2 separate regions of the Homo sapiens genome follow, and region 2 is linked to region 1. A link means that fine-mapping ties the variant in region 1 to the expression of a gene that starts in the linked region. Tissue or cell type: tibial nerve. Region 1 holds a variant in brackets; the other region holds the start of a gene. All regions are shown on one strand. Distances are between the middles of the regions.

The links. PIP is the estimated chance that this variant, and not a neighbour inherited with it, causes the effect.
Region 2: it holds the start of HCN3, and the variant in region 1 is fine-mapped to the expression of HCN3 in tibial nerve (GTEx, PIP above 0.99).

Annotation. Positions count from the first base shown.
Region 1 is chr1:155,301,795-155,310,125 of GRCh38, forward strand. It overlaps FDPS (farnesyl diphosphate synthase), which reads left to right and starts at 7,072. Exons shown (of 11, transcript NM_002004.4): 1 at 7,072-7,171; 2 at 7,995-8,171; 3 at 8,249-8,331. The coding sequence starts at 7,996. It also overlaps a transcript of PKLR not described here. RefSeq lists enhancers at 4,206-4,705, 5,830-5,899, 6,802-6,931, 7,262-7,431. The variant C/T (reference allele first, on the strand shown) is at 4,142.
Region 2 is chr1:155,272,639-155,280,638 of GRCh38, forward strand. It overlaps HCN3 (hyperpolarization activated cyclic nucleotide gated potassium channel 3), which reads left to right and starts at 4,825. Exons shown (of 8, transcript NM_020897.3): 1 at 4,825-5,230. The coding sequence starts at 4,953. It overlaps CLK2 (CDC like kinase 2), which reads right to left and starts at 866. Exons shown (of 13, transcript NM_001294338.2): 1 at 563-866. RefSeq lists an enhancer at 1,459-1,959.

The sequences.
Region 1 (8,331 bases):
CCCAGTTCTGACCACTTTTTTTCTCTGTCTCAACCAAGAAATGCAGAGTGCCTTCACCACTCTGTAACCTGGCCAGCTGCATGTTTTCGCCTACATGTTTGAACCCAAGATGGTACCTTGAACATTCTCAGACACTGATAAACTTGATTAGGTTGTTGCTGGAAACACTGAAAGATCGACTATTTTGCTAAACTTATAGACTCCTACCCCCAGGGAAATTTTCTTTCCTCCCTCCCTTCCTTCCTTTTTTCTTTTTCTTTTTTCTTTTTTTTCTTTTTTTTTTCACAGAGTCTCACTCTGTCGCCCAGGCTGGAGTGCAGTGGCGCAATCTCAGTTCATTGCAACCTCTGCGATCCTCCTGCCTCAGCCTACCGAGTAGCTGGGATTACAGACGTGCACCACCACACCCAGCTAATTTTGTTTTTCTTTTTTCTTTTCTTTTCTTTTTTTTTTTTTTTTTGAGACTGAGTCTGACTCTGTTGCCCAGGTTGGAGTGCAGTGGCGTGATCTTGGCTCACTGCAACTTCTGCCTCCTGGGTTCAAGCGATTATCCTGTCTCAGCCTCCTGAGTAGCTGGGATTACAGGCATGCACCACCACGCCTGGCTAATTTTTGTATTTTTAGTAGAGACGGGGTTTCACCATGTTGGTCAGGCTGGTCTCGAACTCCTGACCTCAGGTGATCTGCCCGCCACAGCTTCCCAAAGTGCTGGGATTACAGGTGTGAGCCACTGTGCCTGGCCTAATTTTTGTATTTTTAGTAAAGATGGGGTTTCACCATGTTGTCCAGGCTGGTCTCCAACTCCTGGCCTCAAGTATCCACCAGCCTCGGCCTCTCAAACTGGTGGGATTACAGGTGTGAGCCATCATGCCCAGCCTTGTTTTCTTTCTTTTTTTTTTAAAGGGTCTCACTCTGTCACCCTGGCTGGAGTGCACTCGTGTGATCATGGCTCACTGTAGCCTTGACTTCCTGGGCTCCAACGATCCTCCCACCTCAGCCTCCCAAGTAGCCAGTACTACAGGTGTGCACCACCATGCCTGGCTACTTTTTAAATTTTTATTTATTAAAAATATTTTTTTCCTTTCTTTCCACAGGTGCTGACTTTTTATTTTTGTAGAGACTGGTGTCACTCTGTTGCCCAGGTTGGTCTTGAACACCTATGCTCAAGTGGTCCTCCTGCCTTGGTCTCCCAAAATGCCAGGATTACAAGTGTGAGCCATAGTACTGGCTTCAAATTTCTTAAACACTCCTATAAACACCATACCCCGAACCCCTCCTTGAGAACATACCTGGGTAGAACACCCTTTGTCCCATTGTCCACAGCAAGGATGTGCAGTAGCTGTTCTGTAGGTAAGTTCCCCTAATGTATGCTTTGGCCTGATTGCCCTGGCATTTAGTGCTTCATTCACTGGAATCCCAACCAGCCCCATCTTGGGATGGTTTGGGGCATCCTTTGTGAGTGCTGCCCTGATGCCACTTTTGGTGTGACACTAGCTGTGGGTTCAGCTGATACTAACTGGTGGGATTCTCTGGAAGGGCTTTGATAGCATCATCATCATCATAGCATTCATTAGTTACCATTTGCCCATTCCCCACTGTCCAATCTTTATCGAGCACCTACGCTGTATCAGGCCCTAAGGACACAGTAGTGAGCAAAACAGACAGGGCCTTTGCCCTCTGTGAGATTTACAGTATAGTGGGGAGACAGACTATCAACAAGTATCAGAGAAATAAATATGTAACTACAAACCTTGCAAGTGCTACTAAGTAGTGGATCAGGGTGCTGGAACACAGAAGCCAGTGGGAGAAGAGAGAGGGTGTATTTTATTTTATTTATTTATTTTTTTGGAAGCGGAGTTTCACTCTTGTCACCTAGGCTGGAGTGCAGTGGCACGATCTCAGCTCACTGCCACCTCTGCCTCCTGGGTTCAAGCAATTCTCATGCCTCAGCTTCCTGAGTAGCTGGGATTACAGGTGCACGCCACCATGCCTGACCTAGAGGATATATTTTAGACAAGATGAGATGGTTGAGGAAGGCCTCTTTGAAGTGATTATTTTGAAGCTGAAATTTGAAGGATGAGAAGGAACCGGTGGGGGCAAATGGAGAAAGGGGTTTTCCATGGCGGCGGGGCGGGGGCAGAAATAATATATGCCAAGGCTCTGAGGAAGAAAAAGCTTGGTGCCAAGGAGACAAAGAGCTGCAATGAGGCTGAGTGCCTGGAGTGCAGGGTCGTGGCCCATAGTGAAGATAGGGGACCTGAGCAGGATCTTGTAATGTGGTGGGTTTACCCAGGGGATGGACATGATCCAACTGATGGTTTAGGTCCCTCCCGCTGCTGGGTAAAGAATAGATGGTAGCCGGGAGCGGTGGCTCACGTCTGTAATCCCAGCACTTTGGGAGGCCAAGGCAGGCGGATCACCTGAGGTCAGGAGTTTGAGACCAGCCTGGCTAACACGGTAAAACCTCGTCTCTACTAAAAACACAAAAAATTAGCCAGGTGTGGTGGTGCGTGCCTGTAATCCCAGCTACTTGGGAGGCTGAGGCAGGAGAATCACTTGAATCCGGGAGGCAGAGGTTGCAGTGAGCCGAGATCATGCCATTGCACACCAGCCTGGGCAACAAGAGCAAAACTGCGTCTCAAAAAAAAAAAAAAAAAAAAAAAAAGAACAGATGGTAGGTACAGGCAGAACTACTGCGGGCTTAGGAAGAATCTAGGTGGTAGGTGATGGACTAGCATGTTGGCAGTGAAGACGAAGAGAGGGGGACGGCTTGGAGATGCATTTTGGAGAAGAGCCAGCAGAGTGGAACGGCAAAACAGCCGTGGAGAGGGCGGCTTCTAGTGTCGAGGAGTCTGGCTTGAGCAGTTGGGTAGATGGTAGCGCCACTAACTGAGACTACGGAAGAAATAGGTTTGAAGTAGGGGGAAATTCAAGCTTTCTGTTTTGACAGGCTAAATTTGAGAAGCCAGTTAATCATTAAAATCCATAGTCAGACAGTTGGAGCTGTTCATCGAGCACACTTCCTGTGTGCTGGAACAGCATTCATGCCTCATGGACACCATCTCCTTTTATCATTGTGACAACCTAGAAAGAAGGTAGGATCAACAGGCTGTTTTACAGATGAGGGAACTGGGCCGTAGCAAGGTGTGTTCCTTTTCCACTCTGCTGTGGGGCCAGGAGGCTGACGGCTTTGCACAGTGGCGTCTGTAGGGTTTGGAGAGTGGCACCCATAGGAGATGAGATGGAGAGGGTGAGGTTGAGCATTTACCTCCCCAGTTGCCATTCTAGGGACCATTCTCTCCCTATCCCTTGGACCTTACAGGGGTAACAAAGCCCACTGTTATTAGATCTGGGGTAATGCACTATCCGTTGTGGTTTACCAACACCCTGCCCATTCCTTTGTATAATCCTGTTATGAAACACCTTCAAATTATCCCATTTAAGAGAATTCTTTATTTCCTGAAGAAACCCTACCGAATACACTTGTCTGATGCAAAAAGTCTTGTCAGGAGTGGAGCTGGGATTCAGGCCCAGATAGTGGAGCTCCAGAGCCCGAGCTGTAACCACTAAGCTCCATGCCTGCCCCTTGGGACTGTTTCAGTGGGTGGGAAAGGGAGAAGTCTCTGACTCTGGAGTTGGAAAAGAAAGAGAGAGATAGTAGAGAGGACTTCCGGAGGGAAATGAGCATGGGGCCTCATCTTTCTGTATATAGAAGACACAACAAATAAAGAGAGACAAAATTTGTACCCACAGAGAATGTGGCAGACTTCAGGGACTGGGGATTCAGGCCTTGTGCTTGTGGTGTTGGCAGAGACATGGGACTTTAAGGATGGTCTGGCATTACTTTGTTTTTGATACAGGGCCTTCCTCTGTAGCCCAGGCTGGAATGCAGTATCATGATCTCTGCTCACTGCAGTCTCAATCTCCTGGGCTCAGGTGATCCTCCCACCTCAACGTCCCAAGGAGTCGGGACTACAGGCACGCACCACAATGCCCAGCTAATTTTTTTTTTTTTTTTTTTGGTATTTTCTGTAGAGATGGAGTTTCACCACGTTGTCCAGGCTGGTGCAGAACTCCTGGGCTCAAGTGATCTACCCGCCTTCACTTCCCAAAGTACTGGAATTACAGGCATGAGCCACCA[C/T]GCCCAGCTGTGGTCTGGCAATATTGAACTGACTCCAGAACCAGTTGGGAGGATAGGAATCCCAGATATCCCAGTCCCAAGGGATTAGCAGGAGGTGGGGGGCAGTTCTCCAAAGCAGCCCGTGTCCTGTCCAGCTAAGGGACAGACACTTTGACCTGAAATCAGGCCAGTTTCCTCAGCAGTCTGGCTGACCCTGGTCCACAAGTGACCACATGAAGCATGGTCTGCACTTTGTCACAGGATCATCCCTGAGCAAGAGGCCTGTGGGTGAGAAACAGAAGCCCAGCATCCAAACACAACACTCAGCTTTGTCAGTTGAGAGCCCTCCCTCCTGCCACAAACACACATGCTCCAACAGCCACACTCACACATGCACAGACACAAACGCAGGTGGCTTTTCATTCCACAGGCATGGACTGAACCCCCATATGGGCCGTGCCCCGACGCATGCCAGACTGGAGGAGGTGAGGCCACTGGGCCCAGGTCTCTGCTCAGTGTGGGGATGGAGACAGGAGCGAGGCCAGTCAGGTTTAATAAAGGAAGTCGGGGGGCACTGACAGAACTGTGCTCAGCACACAGAGGGACACCAGGAGAGACAGAGCATTGTGAGTGAGGGCAGAAGGAGGTCAGGGCAGCTTAACAGACGAGGTGCCCCCTGGTCAGACACATACACACACGTAAACATACACAAAGCTCCCCACCATTCCACACACACACACAAATACGTACTCCACTCTAACACTCACACAATATCCACACTCACACATGCAGATTTATGTATCCGGAATTGGTGGGTTCTTGGTCTCACTGACTTCAAGAATGAAGCCGCGGACCCTCGCAGTGAGTGTTACAGTTCTTAAAGGTGGTGTGTCCGGAGTTTGTTCCTTCTGATGTTCAGATGTGTTCGGAGTTTTTTCCTTCTGGTGGGTTCGTGGTCTTGCTGGCTCATGAGTGAAGCTGCAGACCTTCGCGGTGAGTGTTACAGCTGTTAAGGCCGCGCATCTGGAGTTGTTCATTCCTCCTGTTTCATTCCTCCCGGAGCGATCTCGGTTCACCACAACCTCTGCCTCCCGGGTTCAAGCGATTCTCCTGCCTCAGCTTCTCGAGTAGCTGGCACTACAGGTGTGCGCCACCATGCTGGGCTAATTTTGGATTTTTTAGTAGAGATGGGGTTTCACTATGTTGGCCAGGCTGGTCTTGAACTCCTGACCTCGTGATCCGCCCACCTTGGCCTCCCAAAGCTCTGGGATTACAGGCGTGAGCCACTGCACCCAGCCGTGTTTTGTCCAATTCTTTGTTCAAGATGCCAAGAACCTGGACACCCTCCACCGGTGACAGTACCTTATATACACGGAATCATACAGTATCTGTCCTTTTGAGTCTGGCTTATTTCACTTAGCATAATTGTCAGAGGTGCGTGAACCAGAGCAACTCCATCTTGAATAGGGACTGGGTAGAATAAGGCTGAGACCTACTGGACTGCATTTCCAGTTGGTTTAGGCATTCTAAGTCACAGGATGAGATAGGAGATTGGCTCAAGATACAGGTCATAAAGACCTTGCTGATAAAACAGATTGCAGTAAAGAAACTGGCCAAAACCTACCAAAACCAAGATGGCAACAAGAGTGACCTCTGGTGGTCTTCAACGCTATACTCCTACCACATGCTGTGTCGACATCAGGGAGTTAACTGTATATGGTCTACAAAGCAGAGGCATGAATAATCCAACCCTTGTTTAGCTTATAATCAATAAATAACTGCCTGGGCCAAGTGGCTCGTACTTGTAATCCCAGCACTTTCAGAGGTCGAGGTGGCTGGATCACTTGAGGTCAGGAGTTCGAGACCAGGCTGGCCAATCTGGAGAAACCCCCTCTCTACTAAAAACACAAAAATTAGCTGGGCATGCTGGCAGGCACCTGTAATCCAGGAGAATCACTTGAACCCGGGAAGCGAGGTTGCAGCCTCCCACGTAGCTGGAATTAAGGCGCGGACCAGCACACCTGGGTAATTTTTGTATTTTTAGTAGAGAAGGGGTTTTGCCATGTTGACCAGGCTGGTCTCAGATTCCTGACCGCAGGTGATCCGCCCAAAGTGCTGGAATTACAAGTGTGAGACTCATCTTTTTTTTTTTTTTTTTTTGAGACGGAGTCTTGCTCTGTCTCCCCAGCTAGAGTGCAGTGGTTCGCTGGATCTCAGCTCACTGCAACCTCTGCCTTACGAGTTCAAGCGATTCTCCCGCCTCAGCCCTCCTGAGTGGCTGGGATTACAGGCGCGCGCCACCACGCCCGACTAATTTTTTTTTTTTGTATTTTTAGTAGAGACGGGGTTTCACCACATTGGTCAGGCTGGTCTCGAACTCCTGACCTCATGATCCACCCGCCTCGGCCTCCCAAAGTGCTGGGATTACAGGCGTGAGCCACCGTGCCCGGCCCAAGACTCATCTTTCTTAAGCCCTTAAAGCACTTTGCACACATTACCTCATGGTATTACCACCCTCATTCAACAGATGAGGAAAGCTAGTTTCAAGCAAGTTCACTGAGGATCAGAGACGTTAAATGATTTGCCTAAAGTTAGAGAACTAATAAGTGAGAAAGCTAGTCCTGCTGCGTTTTACTAACGTGCCAATCAGCTGCCCAGGAAGATAATGAAAACTTGAGTAAGACAGGCAGCCAAAGCCACAGCGGGGACGTTCCCAGCCTGGCTCGCTTCCGGCACTGACGCCTCCAGCCGCGACCTCTAGACTTCAGCCCTTCCATTGGTCGTCCGTCACAGTGCCACAGTGCGCCATGCTCACACGACGGCCAGCAGCCAATCAGCGCGGCTCATCTTCGCCCAGCCAGGACACGCAGGATCGCGTTATCTGTCCCTCCCGCGGGCACATTGGGAGTTGTAGTCTAATTATATATTTCCGCCCTTAGTGTGGGGAGAGCGGGAACTACTCGACCCACAGAGCCGATCGCGGAGCGGATTCTGCTTTTAGGAGTACCCGCCAACAAGCGGGACCGAGCAGGAATCCGTATCTGGGAACAGGTGAGAGAGGATGTGTGCTGGGCCTTGGAGGAAGGGGGCCGAGACCGGGCCTTACTTCTGTAACGATACTGTGAGGCATCGGAAGGCCAGCCTGTTGTGTCCGTTTTGAAGGTCGGTGGGCTAGACTGGCTGGCCTTCTAGGGGTGTGGAGACTTCCCAACTCTGCCCTTGTGCTTTCCTGGAATCCCCAATATGCCCGGACCCCGGTTTACTCCTTTGCTGCGAGCCCTTCTCTCCCGTCCAGAGTTGCTCCGAGCCTATCTGCTCAGTCCTAGCGATTCCTGTGGGGCTTGGGACGCGCGGTTCAAGCACCCCGGACCATATGGATGCAGCACCCATGGGTTCTCGCTCCAATGCTTCTTTCCTCCTTGGGGCGTAACTCAGACCCTGGGCACCCCTCTCCACTGCCCAGGGGAGACCTGGGTTCTAGATTTGGCTCTGCCTCTACTATCTTCCTACCTCCTAGAGCCTCAGTTTGGCTTGTGTAAAATAGGATGACTTAAGGGTCCTTTCAGCCCCTAATCCTGGGGTACTTTACTCTGTACCGCCTCCTTACCCAGCCTTGTGCACGCCATCTTGAAGGCACTGAGTTCTAGCCTGTTTATTGTAAGTGGTGATTAGTTGGGTCTCAGTCACCCAGCCATACTTTTTTGTTCCCTGCGTATCCTTCCTGTAATTGTCCCCAAGCACATTCCACAAGAGGGAGGGGCACTCTGGGCTAAGGCTGGGGTGGGAGTTATCTGGGGAGCTGCCACCATGCCTCTGCCTTTGGTGCTTGCCCCTGCAGGGAGTGCTTAGTGCCCCCTCCCTATGCCACTCCCAGGATGCCCCTGTCCCGCTGGTTGAGATCTGTGGGGGTCTTCCTGCTGCCAGCCCCCTACTGGGCACCCCGGGAGAGGTGGCTGGGTTCCCTACGGCGGCCCTCCCTGGTGCACGGGTACCCAGTCCTGGCCTGGCACAGTGCCCGCTGCTGGTGCCAAGCGTGGACAGAGGAACCTCGGTGAGTGTGGTTGGGGTGAGGGGCCTTGGGGAGGGGAGCAGCTGATCAGGTTTCTGACTTGTTTTTCTTCTACTTAGAGCCCTTTGCTCCTCCCTCAGAATGAACGGAGACCAGAATTCAGATGTTTATGCCCAAGAAAAGCAGGATTTCGTTCAGCACT
Region 2 (8,000 bases), 29 kb before region 1:
CTGGGGCCGGTAGCATACCAAGCTGCAAGCACAAGATTTTCCCAGCATAGTTATCCTAATCAGCATAGCCACATAAATGCCATCTCACCACATACTACCATCAAACGGCCTCACAGCACTGTCCCCTCAAAACATCACTAGCCTACCTTTCTCAAGTTTGAAATCTTTTGCTTTTTCCTTTCTTACTCAGAAAATCCAGAACTCCTACAGGCAAATTCTTCCTGCATGTTCCAAGTGACACGGTGATGTATTCCTCCCCTCCAGCTTTGATTGGACCCGAGTCCAACTTTGATATTCCACTCCTTCACATCTCTGGAACCACTCCCATCCTTACTCTATCATCCCTTCTAGTCTGGTTCCGCCCAAGCTTCCTACAGGTCTTCTTGGTACATCTAACGCAGGCCGACCTCCTTCCCCCTCATCTCCCTACTCCGTCGCTTCGTAGGTCTCAACTCTCCTCCTCTCCAAATCTCGCCCCCGTCCCTTGCCCCCAACCCAAGCCTAACCCCGCCCGCCCCGCGGTCGCCATCTTTTCGCGCGGCCAGCCAACCCGCGCGCTCACCGTTCTGGCGGCGAGGCCCGTGCGCTTGTCCCACAGGAAGTCCGTGATGGCGGCGACACTGCGGCCGGAGTCCCGGCACCCCCGCGGCGACGAAATGCTGCTCCACCCCCCCAACCCGGGACCCTGGGACCTCCCGCCCCGTTCCCGGGCTCCGCTTCAGTCCCGCCCGCCCCGGCTCCGTCCCCGCCCCTAAGATCTGCTTGGCGCCGCTCGCACCGCCCCCGCCCGGGGCCCGATCCCAGCTCGGTCTCCGGCTCTGGCCTCTCCGCTCCGCCGCCGCCGCCGTGAGCGAGCACGTACGCACGGACCGACGTCCTGCGTCGCTTCCCAGCTACCCCCTGGGCTCCGCCCCCAGGACCGCGCGCGCCACCACGTGCTCACGTAGTTGGCAGGCATCCGCCTGTCAGAGCCTCGGAGGTACTGGGGGCGGAAGTTCATAGGGGCGAGGAGGGTCCACAGGGACAAGCTGGAAGCCTTCCAGGCCCGCTATGCCCCGCCTCCTGTCCTTTCCCACTCCGTCTTCAATCTTTTACCCTTTGCATGGAGACGTGTGGCTTAGTTAGGTTTGGAGTTTAAAAGAAAGGATTGTCATTGTCAATACAGTGTCGCTGCTCTGCAAGCCTGACTGTAGTGAGGCTTGATGGTGAAGTCTCATTCTTCTGCATAGCCTGAAAATAACCATTTCTTAAAACACTTCACCTACCTATCCCCAGGACAAAAGTCTGCCACCTTTTGTCATCAACAAAAGTTATGCACGACTCGGGGTGGGGACACAGCCATGGAGGAAAGGTTTGAGCAATGGAGGGTTGGAGAATCGGGTGCCGAAAAGGGGGACTTACTTGAGAACTGTATCCTAAGGTGGCTTACATAATGTGTGAGAAATACAAGTTTACTAGGGCCGGGCGCGGTGGCTCTCGCCTATAATCCCAACACTTTGGGAAGCCGAGGCGGGCGGATCACGAGGTCAGGAGTTCGAGATTAGCCTGATCAACATGGTGAAATCCCGTCTCTACTAAAAATACAAAAATTAGCCGGGCATGGTGGCGGGCGCCTGTAATCCCAGCTACTCAGGAGGCTGAGGTAGGAGAATCGCTTGAACCCGGGAGGCGGAGGTTGCAGTGAGCCGAGATCGGGCCATTGCACTGCAGCCTGGGTGACAGAGCGAGACTCTGTCTCAAAAAAAAAAAAAAAAAAAAAAAAAAGCGCGCATCACCACGCCCAGCTATTTTTTTTTTTCTTGTAGAGATAGTGCCTCACTTTGTTACCCAGGCTAGTCTTGAACCCCTGAGCTCAAGCAATCCTCCCCCATCGGCCTCCCAAAGTGCTGGGATTACAAGCATCAGCCACGGCGCTTGGCCAGTTTACTAAATCTTAAAAAAGAACAGGAAGGCTGGGCGAGGTGGCTCACGCCTGTAATACCAACACTTTGGGAGGCCAACGTGGGTGGATCACTTAAGCATAGGAGTTTGAGACAGCCTGGGCAACAGGGCAAAACCCAGACTCTTAAAAAAATACAAGGCCGGGCGCGGTGGCTCACGCCTGTAATCCCAGCACTTTGGGAGGCCAAGGCGGGCGGATCACGAGGTCAGGAGATCGAGACCATCCTGGCTAACACGGTGAAACCCCGTCTCTACTAAAAATACAAAAAATTAGCCGGGCGAGGTGGCGGGCGCCTGTAGTCCCAGCTACTCGGGAGGCTGAGGCAGGAGAATGGCGTGAACCCCAGGGGGCGGAGCCTGCAGTGAGCCGAGATTGCGCCACTGCACTCCAGCCTGGGCGACAGCGAGACTCCGTCTCAAAAAAAAAAAAAAAAAAAAAAAAAAAAATACAAAAATTAGGCCAAGCGCGGTGGCTCATGCCTGTAATCCCAACAGTTTTGGAGGCCCAGGAAGGTGGATCACTTGAGCACAGGAGTTCGAGACCAGCCTGGCCAACCTGGTGAAACCCTGTCTCTACTAAAAATACAAAAATTAGCCGGGTGTGATGGCAGGTGCCTGTAATCCCAGCTATTTGGAAGGCTGAGGCACGAGAATCGCTTGAATCCAGAAGGTGGAGGTTGCAGTGAGCCGAGATGGTGCCATTGCACTCCAGCCTGGGCGACAGAGTGAGACTGTGTCTAAAATAAAATAAAATAAAAAATAAAAATTAGCCATTCATGGTGTCTCCCACCTGTAGTCCCAGCTACTCGGGAGGCTGAGGTGGGAGGATCACCTGAGCCTGGGGAGGTTGAGGCTGTAGTGACCCGTGATCGTGCCACTGCACTCCAGCTTGGGCGACAGAGTGAGACTCTATCTCAAAAAAAAAAAAAAAAAAAAAAGAAAAGAAAAGAAAAAAAGAAAATGAGAAAGAGAAAGAGTTAGAGACTTTACAGAAGGAATTGAGAAGTGGTCAGAAAGGTCAATTGAAAGAGAAATAATATAATCTGAGAATAACGATATTAAAGTCAGGGAGCTGAGCAAGGTGGCTCACACCTGTAGTCCCAGCTACTCAGGAAACTGAGGTGGGAAGATTGCTTTGAGGCTGCAGTGGGTCATGATCACACCACTGCACTCCAGCTTGAGCAACAGAGCAAGACCCTGACTCTAGAATGAGTAAATAAATAAAGTCAGGAAATATTAGAGAGGAGCTGGATGAAGGATGGTCAGATGGAGGTTAGATCAGATAACCAGACATAGTTTAGAGAAGTTCCCTGGAATAGAACATGGAGAGCAATCAATGAAGGAGTCGGGGAGAGAGAAGTAAAGATTTCACTTCCACCTCCTGGAACATTTTCCTAGATTATTAATTCATTCAACAAGCATTTACTGAATGTCCACTATGTGTCCAGAATTATGCCAGGTGCAAGGTTCCTGTTTCTCAGAGTTTCACAATCTAACAGGAGAGAAAATCTGTAAATAAATAATGAGACCATGCTCATGCCTGTAATCCTAGCACTTTGGGAAGCCAAGGCAGGAAGATCACTTGAGCTCTGAGTTCAAAACCAGCCTGGGCAACATAGTGTGACCTCATCTCTAAAATAATAATAATAATGGTAGCCCTGTGACATGAGTTGCTCAAAACAGTGGTGCCCTGGCTGCTGTAAAAAAGCTCTAGAATAGACCCTACCTGAGGAAAGGAGAGTTGGAAATGTGTTCCTAGGTTTCCTAGAGAAAGCAAGATCTGAACCAACTGTTCGAAAGTGAATTGGAGGAGAATACCAGGCAGAGAAAATATTTGCAAAAGCATAGAGACAAGGCAGCACAAAGTCTTTCAGCATGATTGGGGCTGTGGCTTTCAAGAGAGGGACTGTCAGAAGAGAGACTGTTGAAACTAGGTCCAAATTTTTTGGGCCTGGTACACCATGCTAAGCAGCTTAAATGTACCCCTGTAGAAGATGGGAAAGCTTGATGGGCTTCAAGCAAGTGACACAGCCATAGTTGGATTTTAGGAAGGTAACTGGCAGGGAATGGAAGAAGAATTGGCCTGGAAGAGGTTGAAGACTCTTTTAGAGGTTTCCGAAGTAATTTAAGTGAAAAAATGCTGAGGGCTTGAAATGAGGCAGTGGTAATAAGAATTGGAGATGAAGGGGAGAATTTGAGATATTTAGGAATTTGTAGCACTTCGCATAGCACTGCAATTTACCTGTCTGTCGTTGGGCACAGATGAGCAGTGGCTTTATGGCTAGGCCTTTGTTTTTGTTTTGTTTTGTGTTGTTTTCCATTACTACATGGAGATGCTAAGACTAGGACTTTTGTATTCATTTTTGTTTCCTCAGCATCCACTCAATGACAGGCAGAGTTGCACTTGGTGAAGGCTGACAGAATGAATTAGGAAATTAAATACTAGGGGAAGCAGTTCGGAGGAGACCAAAAGACAAGAATATGCCTAGGACAGTGTTGAGAGAAGACGGGAGCAGGACAGAAGTCCCTGGGCGAGAGTGGAGAAGAATCCCAAAAGCCATTTCCACTTCTTCCATTGGTCCCCAATCCCTCTCCCTCCCAAGTCCTTCAAGCTACAAACCCGCGTCCGATTTTCCCGCCACTGCAGGGGGCTCCTCCTCCCTGGTTCTCAGTGGATGAAAGGCCAACGCTAGGCCACGCCCTCTCCCTGGCTCAGGCTGCGCTCCCCGCCTTCTTTGCTAAGCCACGCCCCTCTCGGAGTTCCTCCAGGATCCCGGCGTCCCAGCCCCGCCCGGTCTTGGCGCGGCCCTCGCCAGGGGGCGCCGCGCAGCCCGCCCGCCGCCCGCCAGTCTAGCACACACCCCCTCCGCCCCGCGCGCCGGCGATTCCGAGCCTACGACGCCTCCGCTAGAGCCCGCGGGGCTGCGCCGACTCCTGCTCTGGAGGGGTTGCGGGTACCTGATGGCCACAGAGGGCTCTAGGAGGCCGAGCGTGTAAGCGGGGTGGGCGCCATGGAGGCAGAGCAGCGGCCGGCGGCGGGGGCCAGCGAAGGGGCGACCCCTGGACTGGAGGCGGTGCCTCCCGTTGCTCCCCCGCCTGCGACCGCGGCCTCAGGTCCGATCCCCAAATCTGGGCCTGAGCCTAAGAGGAGGCACCTTGGGACGCTGCTCCAGCCTACGGTCAACAAGTTCTCCCTTCGGGTGTTCGGCAGCCACAAAGCAGTGGAAATCGAGCAGGAGCGGGTGAAGTCAGCGGGGGCCTGGATCATCCACCCCTACAGCGACTTCCGGTATTGGGGGCTTGGCGGGGAGGGCAGGGTACATCAATCCCACCCTCGCGGGCAGCGACACCGGGACCCGGCCCGCCCCACCCTCCACGGTCACTTCATTTCCAGCCCGGGGTCCCTTGGTGGGGCGGGAGAGTCACTTGCACCAGTCTAGCCTGGGAATTCCTGGGCGGGTATCCCCTGCCGGAGGTCCTCCGTGCCTGGACAGGCTGGGGGCACCAGAAGGGGCAAGCAGACATCAGGGGATCTCCAGAGACCTGGATTTCCTCTTTCAGGAACCCGGGACCCCATCCGGACCAAAGGAACTACCAGAGTTTGGGACCCCTGCCTCCTCCAGTCCTGCTTGCTGGAGATCTAGGAAATTATATTCTAAGTATCGGGGCCAGTCTGAGGGAGAAGCCGAGCTCCGCCATCTCCCATCCCCACACCCGCTCCTTAGCACCTGCCTAGTTCAGCATGACAGACTACCAGGAAAAATAGGGACGCTGAAGGGGGCGGGGGGTCCAGACCTCAGCTCTGGTCGCTGTCCCTAGTGCTGAAGGCGGGGGCGGCGGGGCGGGGCCGAGACTCAGAGTGACTGAGGCGGCAAAGCAGGGGCAGGACCACCACCCAGGTGACTCCCAGAGAAGGAACAGAGGGTGGGGGTGGGGCCATTTCACAGTCTCCGTCAGGGTGTACCTCTACATCAAGGTCGCTAGGGGAAGACAGCAGCCCTGTCCTTGGGGGAAATGAAGGACAGCTCTTGGATGAGGCAGGGATGTGTGCAAAGCACCTAACCTGGGGAACTAAAGAAGCAGAGAGGAAGAGGTGTGAATCTGGAGCCTCGAAATACAGTTGTAGACCCAGACATTATCTTGAATCCACATATATACACACTCCCTCTATGTCTCTCTTCCTCCCATTGTTCCTTTCACTCCTGTCTTTGCTGCCTCGTTCCCACCCAGCCAGTGCGCCTTTTCTAGTCTCCTGTGGATCTCACTCTCTTCCCTCAGTTCACTCGCAGACGGATCCCCAGAAGCCTGGTATCCCTCTGATTGTGCTTCTCCATTCTCTATACTACATCACCCGCCAGGCTTGTGACCCACCTGTGAGTCAGGCTGTGAAGATGCTTTCATGGCTAGGCGAACCCTCTTTCCCTCCCCTCTCTTAGTGTCTCACAATACAGGATTCCTCCTCAGCAGCCGAGGAGAGAAAAGAAGAATGGCCGAGGGTTTTTGTTTATTGAAAACATACAGTCTAAGGGGCTTCCCAGAGGCCCGGACTTGAGGAAGTTTCTTTCAGGGCTGAAAATTGATTTTGCAGTCCGAGTCAGAAGGGGCTAGCTCCTGAGTTGACACTGGGATTAGGTGTGTCCTAGAATTAAAACCACCATAGGTAACTGAGTCCCTGAGATTTTCCTGTGCCATTCTCTGAATGAGGGCTTCACACAGTTCCCTCTTGACCTCTTCTTTCCACGGTGTCTGCCACAGCAATGTCACTCACCCCTGCCCATGCCTCTGCCTGTGCTCAGCCAGAGTCCCAGTGGACACAGGGAGGCCAGAGGAGGAAAGGTATGCAGAACTCAAGCCTTGCTGCTTCATGATCTCCTGTGGAGCTTCTCTGTGTGTGCAGCCCTGTTTGAGGTTCTGTGGAGGGGGAAGGGCATCCCTGGAAAGCTCAATTCAGAGGAAGGCAGGATAGACCACCCCACCCTGAGACATGGATGAGCAAACCTCAGCAGAGGAACAGGATCCGTGGGTCCAACTGTGTTGGAGAAGAGGAATGGGGTGGAGAAGGCTGGGGAGGGCATGAGGTCCTAGACTAGAATGGGCAGATAACTGGAGATGGGGGAAGCAGCAGCCTTTTCAGAAATCTGGGGATAAAGAGTGAGTGAGTCATAATACCAACTAGTGCCTGTACCACACTGTCACATCTATTGTCTCCATGTAAATGTTTTCAGCAATGCTGTGAGATTAGCACAGGATACTTTAGCTTTTTTTTTTAACCTTAAAAATATTTAGCAATGGTGAGGTAAATGATATATAGTAGGGATATGTATGTAGATGGAAGAGTAATTTTATTTATTTATTTATTTATTTTTATATTTGTTTATTTATTTTGAGAAGGAGTCTCACTGTGTCGCCCAGGCTGGAGTGCAATGGCACAATTTTGGCTCACTGCAACCTCCGCCTCCCGGGTTCAAGCGATTCTTCTGCATCAGCCTCCTGAGTAGCTGAGATTACAAGCGCATGCCACCACGCCTGGCTAATTTTTGTATTTTTAGTAGACGTGGGGTTTCACCATTTTGTCCAGGCTGGTCTCGAACACTTGACCTCGTGATCCACCCACCTCAGCCTCCCAAAGTGCTGGGATTACAGGTGTGAGCCACCACACCGGCAAATTTTTATTTATTTATTTATTTTATTTATTTATTTATTTTGAGACAGAGTCTCACTCTCGCCCAGGCTAGAGGGCAGTGGAGCGGTTTCAGCTCACGGCAACCTTCACTCCCAGGTTCAAGCAATTCTCCTGCCTTGGCCTCCTGAATATCTGGGATTGGGATTACAGGTGCGCGCCACCACACCTGGCTAATTTTTTTTTTTTTTTTTTGAGACGGAGTCTCGCTCTGTCGCCCAGGCTGGAGTGCAGTGGCACAATCTCGGCTCACTGCAAGCTCCGCCTCCCGGGTTCACGCCATTCTCCTTCCTCAGCCTCCTGAGTAGCTGGGACTACGGGCGCCCGCCACCATGCCCAGCTAATTTTTTGTATTTTTTTAGTAGAGATGGGGTTTCAC